2 separate regions of the Homo sapiens genome follow, and region 2 is linked to region 1. A link means that fine-mapping ties the variant in region 1 to the expression of a gene that starts in the linked region. Tissue or cell type: whole blood. Region 1 holds a variant in brackets; the other region holds the start of a gene. All regions are shown on one strand. Distances are between the middles of the regions.

What was found. PIP is the estimated chance that this variant, and not a neighbour inherited with it, causes the effect.
Region 2: PTDSS1 starts here. The variant in region 1 is fine-mapped to the expression of PTDSS1 in whole blood (TOPMed, PIP above 0.99).

The regions. Positions count from the first base shown.
Region 1 is chr8:96,332,148-96,339,606 of GRCh38, forward strand. It overlaps PTDSS1 (phosphatidylserine synthase 1), which reads left to right. Exons shown (of 13, transcript NM_014754.3): 13 at 1,310-4,848. The coding sequence ends at 1,419. Among named protein-coding and RNA genes, the nearest start is that of PTDSS1, 74 kb to the left of the region's middle. RefSeq lists an enhancer at 7,381-7,459. The variant G/GTATT (reference allele first, on the strand shown) is at 2,298.
Region 2 is chr8:96,258,303-96,265,761 of GRCh38, forward strand. It overlaps PTDSS1 (phosphatidylserine synthase 1), which reads left to right and starts at 3,600. Exons shown (of 13, transcript NM_014754.3): 1 at 3,600-3,917. The coding sequence starts at 3,739. MTERF3 (mitochondrial transcription termination factor 3) reads right to left here and starts at 3,308. Exons shown (of 8, transcript NM_015942.5): 1 at 3,199-3,308; 2 at 55-398. The coding sequence starts at 388. LOC105375652 (a long non-coding RNA gene) reads right to left here. Exons shown (of 3, transcript XR_928431.3): 3 at 6,504-6,590. RefSeq lists enhancers at 2,061-2,754, 2,906-2,965, 3,448-4,140, 4,286-4,525 and silencers at 3,129-3,453, 3,206-3,355, 3,536-3,905, 3,956-4,135.

The DNA of each region.
Region 1 (7,459 bases):
TTAGGGAACCTCCACTGGCCTCTAAGGATCACTTTGGGAATATTTGGGGCCACCTGGTTATTTCAAAGAATTAGACTTGTAGAATAATGACATTGAGGTGATTTCATTGGACAGTAATTCCTCGTCAATCCTTATAAGCTACTTGGGAAGCTTGGCTGAAGAAAGAAAATTAGAAATACTAAAGACTGAATTTTAGCTCACAAAATTGCTCAGAGAAACGGTGGGCCAATGGAGAAGAAAGCGCCCTGTTGCAGTCATTCTCCTAAGTTCTTTTGGCATCAGGCTCATTAAAGATCTCCCAGGGGAGACACTAACATACACTCTGCTGAGCTGCTGGCCGCCCTTTTGGGGAAAGTTTCTCCTGAACCACGGAATTGATCAGTGAGCGGCCCGTTGTGAAATCTGATAGAGATGGACAGAGGGGCTCCCCAGCTATCTTATTTAGAACCATGCCCTTACAAACAACCTTGGCACTTACAGGTTCTCCACTGAAGAGAATTAAGCAGTAGTAGAGATGTATTTACTTGATGGAATAATAAAAAAAGAAAAATAACAAAAACAGAAGTCTTCTGAGTGGGGAAAGAATCTCTTAGTCTAAGTCAAATGCTCCTTACAGTGGAGACTGTAACTCTGGTAACTTTTTTTTTGTTGGCAGCCTCAGGTGGAGATTTCCTATGGGGCTGGATCAGAGCCCTGGGGCAGAGAACCCTTTGGCTTGGCCGCTAGGCCAGGCAGGGGCTGAACAAAGGCTCAGCTGGAGGGCAGAGGCTGCCCAGTGCCCTCCATCGTGGGCAGCAGGGGCCTGAATTGTAAAGATGTTCTCCAGATCAAATGTAGAGGGTGTGAAATAGCTCTGATTTTATAGTGTCAAGAGTCTTTCCTGATGTCGGGTTTAGAAGGTGGTGTGGAGCAGGTGAAGGGATGGAAACCCTTGGTTGCAGGGCAGGATGGGCACCGCGTGGTGTGTGTTTTAATTGCCCCTCGTTTGGGCTTCCGTTTCACTTGTGCTCTCACTTCTGGTCCTCACCATCATGACCATGTCCATCATACACAGGACAGATGTACACACGCTTCAGGAACCACCCAGACTTTGGGGCGCTATTGCGTTGAACCCCGCGCCACCGCGTGTGCTCCTTCAGTACTAGTTCTGTGTTTGAGAGCCTCGCCTTCATTTATGAATGAGGCCACTAGGGGGAGTGCACGTATCAGGGAAGAACCTGTTCCCCGGCAAGCCTAGGGCGGTCTGGAAAGGGACAGTCACCAATCTCCAGAGCCCAGGGTGACGGTGTGCTCTGATTCCTTTGGCCAGGTTCTGAAGACAGCCCACCCAAGCATGCAGGCAACAACGAAAGCCATTCTTCCAGGAGAAGGAATCGGCATTCCAAGTCAAAAGTCACCAATGGCGTTGGAAAGAAATGAAAAACCCTGGTTAATCAAAGATGTTCCAGAGTGCCTAGAACTGAGAGGGAAATGGAACTCATTTGGAACTCCCCGTGAGGAGGTCGAGGCGCACAGGGCAAGCAGGAAGAGGCGAGGGCACTTGGGGGTCATTATTTGAGATCGTAAGTCTTGTTTCCCACAGACCTGGCCGCGTCAGGCAGATCATCGCCTGGGGGGCCTTTGCCAACGTGGGGTCTCTTCTAACTTCAGCACTTGACATGCGGTCACCGGTGGCAGCGCGGTGTGTTGAAGGGAAACGGTAGCTATTCATTCACAGTTGCCAAGAGCAGCTCCGCGCCTGCTGGATCGTGGATGCAGCGTAAACATCTTCCTTCAGACGAGGCATTAACCCCATGGTTAATGGACTGGTCACCAGTTTTTATTTTATTTTTATGAATCTACCTTTCCATTGATTGATTTAAGTTCAGGCCACTTTTCTGTCTTTTATTTGGTTACTGTTGTTATTTGTTTTTAAGTTAGGATGCTTTTTAACAGCCTTTAGAAGCCGCTGCTGAAATTGATACTGGGGGAAGGGTTCCCCTTCCTTCTAGAGCAGAAAAGGGAGAGAGGTGTTGTATTCCTGTTTGGTAACCTCAGTCTCCTGTAAGACCTCCTACCACATGGCGAGTATACACCAATCAGGAGAGGGTAGCTGCCTGCATAGGAGCCTCGCTTCCGATTATTCCCTTCCCAATATTATTCATCCAGACTTAGCCACAGTGCACAAAAGCAAACCTGCTAGAGAGGCAGTGAACACCACAGCTTCTCCCCAGCTAGGTGCCTTTTACATCGGGTTTGTTCTCCTTCCATGGTGTGTTGCTGACATTGTCACTGAGTCCCATGTGAGGTGCTGGTGA[G/GTATT]TATTACCTTTCATCTGTGCCATGCTCTAGAACCTTGACCTTGATAGTTCACCACCTCTGATGGATCCCTGTTTTAAATAAAAACGATTCACTTTAAAGCCTATCAAAGGTCTGTCTGTAAAATGCTCATTTTCTTGCATCTTACTGGTATCTTCTATTGATTGTAAGCAGTCTGTGTTTTTCAAGTGACTTTAGGATAATATATATGTGTTTTACATAGTGAGAAGAAAAAAGAAAAGATGTGTATTTTAAAGGGCTTACAGACATATATGTCCTACTTCTTAGACTACCCAAGTGACCAACAGGAATGAACAACATAGTCATTGTTTTTTCCTGTGGTAATGGTTTCCAAGTTGGACTTTTTTTTCCTCTAACAAGAGGCCAGTACCCAGTTGATTAGCTTACAGATATCAACTCACTGAAAGTAATCTTTTGTTCCCTCATTTCACACAGCACAAAGGTTCGTTCTGATGTTTCTTCTTCTTTAAGGAAATCTTTAGCCATAGAAGTGTCACTTTTTTTTTTTCTGCAAAAGAATTCCAAGATGAACGGGTTGAATGAATCATGCCAGCCAGGGTCACATCCTGTCCTCAGGGGGCCCAGTGCTCAATAGTAGATTCTGCGGGAGTGGAGAAGCGTCAGTGGCAGCTCCGCTCACTTGGTGAGTGAGGGATTTGGCTGTGATGAGCCTCAGCTCCGAGCTCTCAAATGTCCTCCAGCCAGCATCTGCCTGCTTCCCACAAAAGGATAGAAGAGAGGCAAAGTGCGTGTTTCATAAAACCTGCCTGCACTTTTATAACCCATCAAAGAGGCCATTTTTAAACACAGGTACAATTTAAACATGATCTTTCTTTGCAAATAAATATGTTTTGTTTCATCCTGTGTTCTGCTTTTCTAAGCATGACATACTTGTGCCCATTGGAGAAGACACCTGTCTCTTCTTTCTCACACCGGTGGTGCCTCACTGAGTGTTTCCGGGTTCATTTTCCGGGAGCACTGGGCCTGACACTTTCACACTCTTCTGACTTTCGCCTTGTTGCAACTGATGGAGCATGTGTGCTTCCTCTGAGGCCAGCCTACAGGAGGCAGCTGTTTCGCAGGTGGTGAATTCGACTTTACTGTGGCATTGTGAAGAGCAGGGTGCACAGGAGATGATTTTTTCTCCATGGCTTTGTAAGAAACAGCCAGGAAAGTTCTCAGATACTTTCCATGCCCTTTCTTTGAGTTGAAACTTTCTATTTCCCTTCAGTCAGAGCTCTTTACTATAGTAGTTACAAAACCAGTGCTTTCCATGGCTGGCCAGAACCACAGCTGCTATTCCTTTTAGAAGCCATACTGCTGGGTTTGGCCTACTTTTTTCACCGTTTCTATGGAAATAAACCTCACATTGATGGAAATAGAATGCGTGTTTCAGAATCATCATTCAATATCTGAAATGATTTGATTGTAAATTATCTCATGGTCCCTGTTTGCAAACCACCCTCTTAAGAGAGAACATTGTTTTGGACCTAAAGCTTGAAGAACGGTTTATGTATTTTTCTCCTTAAGTAGCATTGCATTGAGTGTTAGGTTCTTTTCCCTTTTTTTCATTCTTGGTCTTCCCAAAGCTTCTTCCCACATTTCGTTTGTGTCTGTTTCCACCATTCATAGAAACCTTGGAACCACTCTCACAGCAATGCTAGGATGTTTCATGGACCTGTTAAGCATTTTGATGATACAAGACATCCTATCAATGCCAGTCTTATTTTCGCTAGGACTCTGCTTCCACAGTAAGCTCCTAAGGTGCTCACCCAACCCAGGAGAAAACAAAATTCATTACCAAATACAACAGGTTCAGCCTTCTTGGTCTTCCCTCAGAAGCCACCGTGTAGCACCCTGGAATGATGCCTCTTTATGCCAAGGCCCACCCTTTGGAATTGGGAGGGTTTTGGGTAGAATCCTGCACTTACAGAGGCCCTTGGGGTCATTGAGAAGTGGAGGAGGTTGGACACAGAAGGGGAGGCTAAACACAAGGTGGGGAAGAAAAAATGTAACCATTGGCAGCCAGACTGAAGCTAGCCCTTTAAAATACGGGGTTGGGGGGTTAACATCCGCTCTTTGGAATGTGCTCAGTGACTGCTGCAGAGTTCCTGGGCCACCCTAATGTTTACCAGGTGGGCGTTGTTTATATGGTTCTTATTGTTATGACAACTAGAAATCCCACAGTAGACTAGACAGTGCTCCCTACCATTTCCCATTTATAGGATTGAAATCAAGATGTAAGGAGAGCTGGCCGGGCGCAGGGCTCACGCCTGTAATCCCAGCACTTTGGGAGGCTGAGGTGGGTGGATCGCCTGAGGTCAGGAGTTTGAGACCAGCCTGACCAATATGGTGAAACCCTGTCTCTGCTGAAAATACTTAAATTAGCCGGGCATGGTGGCAGGCACCTGTAGTCCCAGCTACTCGGGAGACAGAGACAGAAGAAATGCTTGAACCCAGGAGGTGGAGGTTCCAGTGAGCCGAGATCACGCCACCGCACTCTCTAACCTGGGCGACAGAGCGAGACTATCTCAAAAAAAAAAAAAAAAAAAAAAAAAAACTGTAAGGCGAGCTAAGACGTCTGTCTATCAGTGTTCCATTACATAATACACCTCTTTCCTTCACATGTGTGTGCACATTCTCAGGATTATATTAGAGATTTGATTCTTTGCAAGGGTCAGTATCAGTAATGGCTGAGACTGGTGGGCTGCAGTCATGTTGCTATGCCGTAAGAGGTTTTTACAACATTTCCCCTTATCACACTTTATTCTAACCTGATGATGGGCCTATCTCAGGTGAAGATTGCAATAGTTTCCTTAATTGAACTTTGGTATTTGATGCATTAAATAAATATGGCTTTTTAATTTTGCTATCTTCTGTGAATTTAAAGGAATTATTTCATTGATGTCTACCAAAGAAGATAAAAAAACAGTTGGATGTGAAATTTTTTTAGGTTGTGGGAATGCTACGTTGTAAAAATCTTCCTTTTCTTCCATGTTCACTAAAAAATGCCTTTAGTCCATTTCAGAAAGTTCATCTGTGACTTGGTCTACTCTGATATTCCCTTTCTTGCAGCTTGTTAGGTGGAATTTTGAAGTTGCTTGTCCTGCAAAGAGATATTTGTTGTCACAGTCTAACAGTGTTCAAGGGTTTGCAACATGTCCAAGTACCTCCAAGGCCTCACAGGGCTAAGCTGAATTTATCCCTCATGATACTCTGATACTCATAATACTCTGGTTGAAGCCTGGTCTCTACCTCCATATTCAGTACACCCAGCTGGGGAGGCGGGTGACAGCAAGCTTCCTGCCTGCATTTCTAGCAAAAGGGACTCCTAAGCCCCAGCATTGTTGTCCTCTTGGAGCAGAGAGAAGGGTGTTGGCAGATCCCTTCCCCTCTCGTAACCCCAGTGAGGACAGTAACATCATTCAGAACATAGAATTTACCCAAGGGTTTTGCTTTCACAGCTGATGCAACCAACCACCCAGCCTCTTTAAGTGATCTGGGCTCACGCTCGTACTTGTGCCTGGGAGTTAATTGCTGGTTTTTCTTTGTTACTGGAATGCTCAAGACATCACCCTGGCCAGGGTCTGCAAACTGTGGGCACCGACAGTGCCCTGCGGTGGCAGGAAGATTTGCTCAGAGCTGTGACCTCCTGCCCCTCGGAGCAGTCATCCCAGGGCGTCAGAGCCTGGTGTTCCATTGTAGGGTGTGGCCCCTTTCTGGATGCTGAGTAAAGGAGACTCTTGTGGTTTTACAAACCACAGGAAATGAAGTTTGTCTGCCTTTAAAAGAAAATTGGTTTTCTAACATTTGAGACTAAAAAAACCAAAATATTTCATTATCGTGTCTGAAGTATACACACAATAGCTTTCATTACAGAGTCAAATTGCAGGCAAGGTTTATGTAACAATCCATACTGGAAATCCGGGCTGTAAGCCTGACTGTTCCCACCCGCCCGACAAAGGGCTGTTTGGGCTCAATCTCATCTCTCCAACTGCATACGTCATGGACTGATTAGGTATTTTATGAGTGCAGCGTGGGAAAGGCTTAAGAAAGATCTTCAGCTTTCAAAATGTTAGGGATCCTCCACCTCTCTTAGAGTGGATGAAATCCAGACCAGGAGCAGGGGAATAAGAGTTCACTAGGGCCACTGCTAACATGACTTCCAGACAGTGGCATTCAGAGGATTGGAGCCTTCAAAACACCCCCGTGTGGGGCTCTCCGCACCCCTTCCCTCTCGTCCCTGAATCCTCCCAGCAGCCACAGTAACACAAGCTTGCACATAGAGCACACGGCCAGGAGGTGCCCGGGGGCCACCGGAGCAACACAGCCTGAGACTCTGTGCCAGGCTCCTCCCCTGGATTCTTGTGCACATGTCTTACTCCTATCAGCAGACCACAGCCCCATAGATCCTCACTGGCCTCAGAGCTGGCAAATGGATGGCAAGGAGCTGGTTCCCTGGTGACCGCCACACCTTTGCTCCTCCTCCTCCTCCTTGGAAGGAGACTCAGATCTCAGGTGCTTGCTTGATTAGAGATGGCCACACCTCCAAGCCACTCTTCAGGTGGCTCCAGGGGTGGTTGGCTGGTTGCGTGCTCTGTGGACAGAATAACTGGTGTTGGCCTTCGTTGTCTTTTGTGTCCTGTGAGTAGGCAGACTCCGGCCTTGACATCCCTGTGTTTCTGTGGCCTGAAATCAGTCGAGATGCCAGCTCTTGAACAGGGTCCCCATACTCCACGTGGATTCTTTTCCCAATGTTTTGACGCATTCTGCAAACTGTTGGAAGGCAATTTCTCTCCCCTGTAGCAGCTCCCTCTGCCCTCAGGAATGTGATTTACAATCTGATGAGGCCATAAACCTCTACTTTTCACGTCTGAAAAACAGCAAAGTATGGGAAAGAATGTAAATTATAAATACTGAATTCCTATGGTCAGCAATAATGGAATGGCCTGGGTGGGTTATTTTTTTTAATATGGTATGCATATGGCTTTAATTTCGAAGGGGTTGGGTCCTCCCCCACCACTGTATTTCTTGGGAGAACAGATAACAGCAAAATGTCCTGCTGTGATACGGTGTTTTTCCAAAATGAAAAAATAGCATCTTTCTGATGACTCACTGGCCAAATACTTTGAAAGGCCACTGTC
Region 2 (7,459 bases), 74 kb before region 1:
TGTTCAAATGGCCAAAGTAGGGAAAGGGAGACTTTTCTGAAAGTTCAGAATTACCTTCTAGAAACAGCTCAGAATCAAAGCTGGATATATTTTGTGTCTTCTGTGACTGTTCATTCATGGAAGGAAGCAGACTGCTTTGGGCAGAATTATTCTCCTGACTACTTGAGCTAGTAGACTGGGAACTATTCCATAAGGAGGAAGTCCTGTAAGTCTTAAATCCCCACTGGAGAAAGCAATTGTCAGAGGATATCTGAGGCTGAGCAGAAAAGCCATGTAACAGTGTTCTTGCTGGTCTAGTAAAACGTTTTGTGAGTTGTGCAGCATTAATGAGGCTCCTCAACTTAACTGAGTTAAACCATCTGGGTATCTGTTGGGCTGACAAAGCCATTTTTCTTAGTCTACAAAGGAAAGATATAACCGTCAAAAGAAGAGAAATTTAATTTACTTAAATGTTTAAAACGGTATTCAAACAACAAAAAGATAAACTGGAAATTATTTTTTTCTAATTGAAAGGTGTTTAAATATATATTTAGTCTAAAATAGTGAGATGTTTCTTATGTACAGGAAAAGCCAACAACAAGGCAATCTCAGTTACAAACCAACAGACAGGAACTTCTGAGTGGAAAAATAAAGATATACTTTACAATTTAAAAACAAAATGCAATGACACTGGTGTAAGAAAAATGCTTAAAACAAAAATCTGCAAATGTTCAAGTGACAGCAGACCTCACTAATCTGTTAATTTAATCATTTAAAGAGAATAAGCTGATGCAAATAAGTGTTCTTGAAATTTGGTGTGAAGGGTGTTTCCGCAGCACATTGCTGATCAAAGTAACACTGAATTATTCAAATGCATTTTATGTATATAAATTTGTCCCAAAATGAAAAAACAGAAATCTACTGTGTCCTAAACAAATCATCAAAATATTATCATTGATATACAGAACAGTGAAAGCAGTTTCTTGCTTCATTCTCAGGGCTGAACACTGTTGATTACTTCACAGATAAAGCTGTTCTTCCAAAGGGAATTGAACAAAACCAGTTTTGTCAAGTTTTGTTTCACTGTAGGAAAGGAGAAAAAAGCCTTCAAAAAGAAAAGGTCAAAACTAGTAACAAAACCAAGTGACAGAAATAAATAAGCAACCAGCAATTAATACCTGTATATTTTGACTGAAAAAGTAGTTTTCAAAAATATTTTTATCAGGAAAGGCTAGTGCTATGTTAAACTCCAGGAATATGAAGGGATTTTATATTTAGCCAGCTAATTAGAAAGGTAAATTTGATGCATATAATCTTACGTTAAATAACATTATCCATATAAAACACAGGATGGAGTCAGGATATAAGAAATGCTCAATAAATGTTAGCCATTATTATTGGTTACACAACCAAATACAAAAATTCTGCTGAATTAATTGCTGCCTACAACTTTATACTTTGTTTTTCTGCATACTGGAATTCAGCTTGTTTTATGCTCTAAATTAGACCAAATACTTGAGGGTCTAATCTTTTCTTGGAGATCTGTAGTTTTGGGAAGTTTGCTGAAAGAGATTTTACAAAAGTGAAAGTTTCCTTTCATTCTGCAATTATTTATTATTATTATTATTATTATTTTTTTTGAGACGGAGTTTCGCCCTTGTTGCCCAGGCTGGAGTACAACGGCACCATCTTGGCTCACTGCAACCTCTGCCTCCCAGGTTCAAGTGATTCTCCTGCCTCAGCCTCCCGAGTAGCTGGGATTACCCACGCCCGCTACTATGCCCGGCTAATTTTTTGTGTTTTTAGTAGAGACGGGGTTTCACCATCTTGGCCAGGCTGGCCTCGAACTCCTTACCTCAGGTGATCCACCCAGCTTCCCAAAGTGCTGGGATTACAGGCGTGAGCCACTGCGCTCGGCCCATTCTGCGATGATTTTAGAAAAGAAGTAAGTATTCACAATACCCTGCTGGGATAGGTGGTTTCTGTTAGATTTTGGTGGGAAATGGGACTCCAAATGTGCCAAGTTTTCCCTCAAACCTACAACATTCATTCTCTGCACGGTAGTCATAAGGGCACTAAATTGAAAGTCAGAAGACCTCGGTTGTGCTACCTTGACAAGGCTGTTTCTGGCAGCAGTCTAACAAAAGCAGCAGTCTAGCCCATGATGTGGGGGGTGGGGGTGGGGTCAATAACTATTCTTCAAATAATGCTTTTTTAAAAGGCTAGGGGTACAATAAGATGATTCTTAAGGCCCCTATCAGCTCTAACATTTTTTGACGTCTAAGCACTTCATCCTACTTCAAACTCCTGAAATCCCAAATTCATCCTGAAGCCTTTCCACACTCAATACCACTTAAACATCAGGAAGACTCACTTTCAAATTTCACCCCGTCATTAAAAGATCTTTGTGCATACAACTAATGTTTATCCTTGCATTTTTATTTACAAGTGCACTATCTTCTCCACATCCTTTCATTGCTGCCTACACATCTTAACAATTGATTAACTGTTCATGCACGAGAGCAGAGCTGGGTCTCATCCCTGGATCCATCCTTCCGGGGACTATTCTCCACTTTCCCAGAGCCTTGTACTGCTCTAATGTTTGCGGAATGGAAATAAATCAATGGCAAGTACAGTTAACTCACTTGCTTACACAGTATGCAAAAGCGGGTAGGGGATGTGCAGATGTGTATAAAAGCCCTGTAAGGTGGTAACCTGAAGTCTTCTAACAAGGTCCTTTCATCAGGAAAATTACAGAAAACCCTTAAAGAAACTGAAGTCTCTTAACAATTCATATATACTGTTCTCAATGAGTGCCTAGTGCTTCGCTAGAAAAAGGCACTGAAATAGAGTTCAAGATTTCTACCTACGAAATGCTATAAATGAAATCAGGAGAGAAAGGGAGGTTATGGGGGCAGCTTCCTAATAAAGGGTCTCTCAATACTTCCCAGGCCATTTTAGCCCACTTCAGTTCCCCAAACTTGCGCAGGAAGGCAGAGCCCCCTCCTGAGGCTTCTCACACTGCGCTAATTAGCCAGCATGGTTGAGTTTTCACTACATCAGCCAGGGAAAAACACAAAACAAAACCAATCACCCTCTACTGGGCCGCGAAAACCTAAAGGCCCTTGAGGCCCTGGGGCGCGGTCTGGACGCGGGTGCGCCGGAACCTGAACCCTCGCCAGGAGCGCGATCCTCGTGCTGGGGCAGCTCCTGCTTTACCTGTGGCGAGGCCTGCTTCCCGTAGCGGGTGACCCCGGGACCGACCAACTCGCTGGGCCGCACGTCCCGTCCCGCCGCGCCGCACGCCGGCTCCTCAGCCCGCCCTACACAGCGCAGCCGCGCTCCCGGGCCCACGTGGGCCGCGCCCGGAGTGGGCGAGACCATGTGCCGGGTTACGCGGGGAGACAGCGGGCTACGTGCTCTGAAAAGAGCCAGCCAGGGGCCCCGGCTACCCTTCTCCGGCTCGCTATTCCTCTGAAGTCCTGTGGACTTGGAGTCTGAAAATTCCTCGAGTGGTAGAGATGCCTCAGCTAGGATGACAGCGTGGGGACGGCCGGCGGCGTCCCCTGCCCCAGGCCGCGGTGGCGGCGCCGCGACCCCGCCCTCTCGCGCCTGTCCTTCCCTCTGCTCCCAGCCTTTGCTGGGCGCCAGACCCGGCTTTGCCGTCCGGCTATTAGCCTACTGTGGCTAGTCACCCCCGGGGTCCCGGCCTTCTCGGGCTGGGGCCGCCGCCACCGCGGCAGGACGGGGAGGCGGGCCATGGCGTCCTGCGTGGGGAGCCGGACCCTAAGCAAGGATGATGTGAACTACAAAATGCATTTCCGGATGATCAACGAGCAGCAAGTGGAGGACATCACCATTGACTTCTTCTACCGGCCGCATACCATCACCCTGCTCAGCTTCACCATCGTCAGCCTCATGTACTTCGCCTTTACCAGGTGGGGCGGCCCAGCCGAGCGGGGGGCGCGTCCAAGGGCTAGGGAAGAGGCGGGAGGGAGGGTGGCGGGGAGGGGGGCCCGGCATGGCTCTGGGTGAGGAAGTGGGCTGGCTGCTCCACGCACACGCACTGGCAGCCCGCCGCCCACGCGGCCCCTCCGCCCGCCCGGTGTCTCACAGTACGCTAGCCTGCTCCCCTACCCCTCAGTGCCCCTTCTCCATACAGCGCCTCCGGTTACACGGGGAACGCACGCGAGTCACCTAGCACGATCGCCCCCTCACCCACCGCACTCAGCATCGCTCCACACAACATCACGACGCGGGCCCCTCCTCTGCACTGCTCCAGCCTTCGTCCCTACCCAGCACACCGCATGAATCATGTCGTATGCACCACTTTCAGCACACACCGCTACACATACAAAGCACCCCAATCCACAGCGCCTGCAGGCACCATACACAGGCCCAGGACACAACCTAGATCCCTTCCTGTGGAACTCCGGTATTCGGCACTATCCGTAACGCACAAAAAATGCACATGTGTGCTGCATACACGGTCTTTCCTGTGCAGCACTTCCCGTATGCATTGCACACAAGTCATCCAGCATAACACTTCCCCCAGCCTCAAACACTACCATCTGTACCACGGCACAAACTGCCACTCTAAACACACACCTCACAGCGGACCTTTCCTTTCCAGCACAGCCCAATACCCATCATCTGTGTACATGGCTGCACAGACACCAGCCCGCCACACATCACGCGGTGCATACCCTGCTCACTCATTACCTAACATACGTGCTGAAATGTGATCTTGTCCAGCAATTTTAATGGTGCCTGGGGTATAGTAACTGCTGTGTGTTAAATGAAACACATAAACCTCACACAGCATAACACAACTCTCTTATTCCCTGGAAAACATACACACACATTCTAATATATACCGGTTCATAGGAGCTGCCCAGCCCAAATCTTGAACACACCTCATGTTAACTCTGGCACTGCGCCTGTGGCTCCTCATTCCTAACCTAGAGAACTAATTCATCCTTGGTTCATAAGGAGGTACACACCGTGGTTCCTACTTAGAATGATTTATACTTTCTGAATGAACCTCTTTAAAGAAAGGGAAGTCACACCTCTCTCACCATTATGGCTTAAAAGGCCAACTTAGAGTAGAGTAGTTTTTGAGCCACACTTTTGGTTTCAAAACTGGCTGTGTGTCCTTAATTAAGTTGCATAACCTTGCTCTGAGCCTCAGGGGCCACACTCGTAAAATGGGGATGAAATATCTACTTATATAGGGTTATGAAAATTAAATGAATGTGTGTGAATGCATTTAGCAGAGTCCCTGGAGCACAATGTACAATTCATGTCAGTTACTTCTCTCCCAGTATTTTTATCCAACAATCAAGGTTCTCTGTCAGGGTCAGCAGAACATGTGTAGGGATATATATATTGGGTAGTCACAAGGATTGAGAGAACTTCTAGTATTTGGGAGGGGGAGCAGTTAACGGATACTAAATGTATTGTGACATATGTGACAGCGCTGTACAACATAAAGGGAATTGTCTTCTACACAGTCGTTTGCATACACACACACAAGTGCCGGTGGTGCCTCCCTTAGGAATAACTGCAGTTTTTCAAATCCTCATAAAACTAATATCCTCCCACATCACACTTGTTCCTTACCTCTGGGATTCATTTGACTCTTGGTTCTTGTTATGTAAGTGTTTATCCATTTGAAAGAATCTACCTAAAGGTATAAAGCTTAAGTAACAATTGCTTACTCTTTAATGATTGAGGGATCTTGCCACTATTACTATAAAATCTGCTAAAGCTGTGCAGCAGGTGAAGACCAGACCTTTCCACAGTACCTGACCAGACATATTTCTAGCTTTGGAGAGAAATGAATCATGTCCCTAACTATGGTTACTTTCAAATACTTCATTATGTTGCCTGATTTTATCACTTAATAGCTGTGTGGCCACATAATTTTGCTAGGCCTCAGTTTCCTTATCTGTATGTAAAATGAAAATATCAATACATTAATCTGTCGGGATTATTTGTCATGAGGATTAAATTCATCTTTTTAGATAATCTGTTTAGCTCAGTGCATGGCAAGTATTAAGTGCTTAATAAACATTAGTGGTTATTACGATGTGATTTCATTGAATGCTACTGTCTTCTAATTTATATTTATTATTGAACGAGGATGTAGTATGCTCTGTAATTGAGAAGGATAAAAGCACTGGAAAAATGGACATTAGATAACATACATACCTGTTTGATGTTAACTTCAGTTTAACTTCATCTTAGGTGTGGGCTTGAAATAATGAAATTAGTGAGGGAGTTTCTCTGGAAATTAGAAAAATAATTATGGTATTTTGTTTTAAATAATGAGAAGCAAGAATGAGCCATTTGTTTCAGCCTTTCATTTTTAATATTATTCTAGGTCCTTTCAAAATAGGTTTCTCTTCCTCTTTTCTGATATAAAAAGTCACAATCTTCTGAAATTTCCTTTTACATCATATTCTGTCAAGGCAGTCAATAAATTGCAGCAGTGAAAGTATAAGAAATGAATACGAATTTTAACAGCTTGTCCAAAATAATAGAAGAACCATAATCTGAACTTCAGACTGTAGTCTCATCCAAAAATGTTAACAATTTTATTTCTTCCACTAATTTCATAAAGAGACAGAAATCACATAATGAAGAACTAATTAATAACAAGTTTCACTTTATATAAAATCATAAGCACCATTAATAGAATTCGTACTTACTAAATCTTACTCATTTTTTGTAATGATTTGTGACTTAAGTGGGGCATTACAATGATAGCTCTATATTCCTCCATAAAGACGGAAAGTAACGACTTCTTAAATGAAAATGTATCCTATGTTCTTTTGTAATGATTAACTCCAGTGCCTTATTATTTATTTTATAAGATTTTAGTTGGACAATTGTTCAGTGCAATTCTTTCAGTAAAACTTAAAAGATATGTCTTAAAGTTTGTTTTGCAAAGACTAGTTGTCTAAGAGAACGAGGAGATAGGATTCTTTTGGGATGTCATATAACCAGTATGTGAGAAACAGTACTTGGGTACTGTCACATGCTTCAGAGATCCAGCAAGAATTTAAAATTACAGAGGATTAGATACCTTGCACTGAAGTCTGAGACAAGTTTGGATTTGTCAAGTAGTTCTTTTGTTAGATGGCCCTTAGGTCAATTCCCTGTTAAACCATAGTATTTAAATATCTCCTGTCTTTATCACCATCATTAAAAATAAAGTTAGATACTACCTAATCATTTTCCTATTTGAAAAAGCTCATTTCCAGCCTGGACAACATGGTGTAACCCTATCTCTACAAACAAACAAAACAAAACAAAACAAAACAAAACAAAACAAAAATTAGCTGGGCGTGGTGGCATGCACCTGGAGGCTGAAGTAAGACGATCACCTGAGCCTAGGAGGCAGAGGTTGCAGTGAGCTGAATCACGCCACCATACTCCAGCCTCCACCCTACTCACTCGACAGAATGAGACCCTG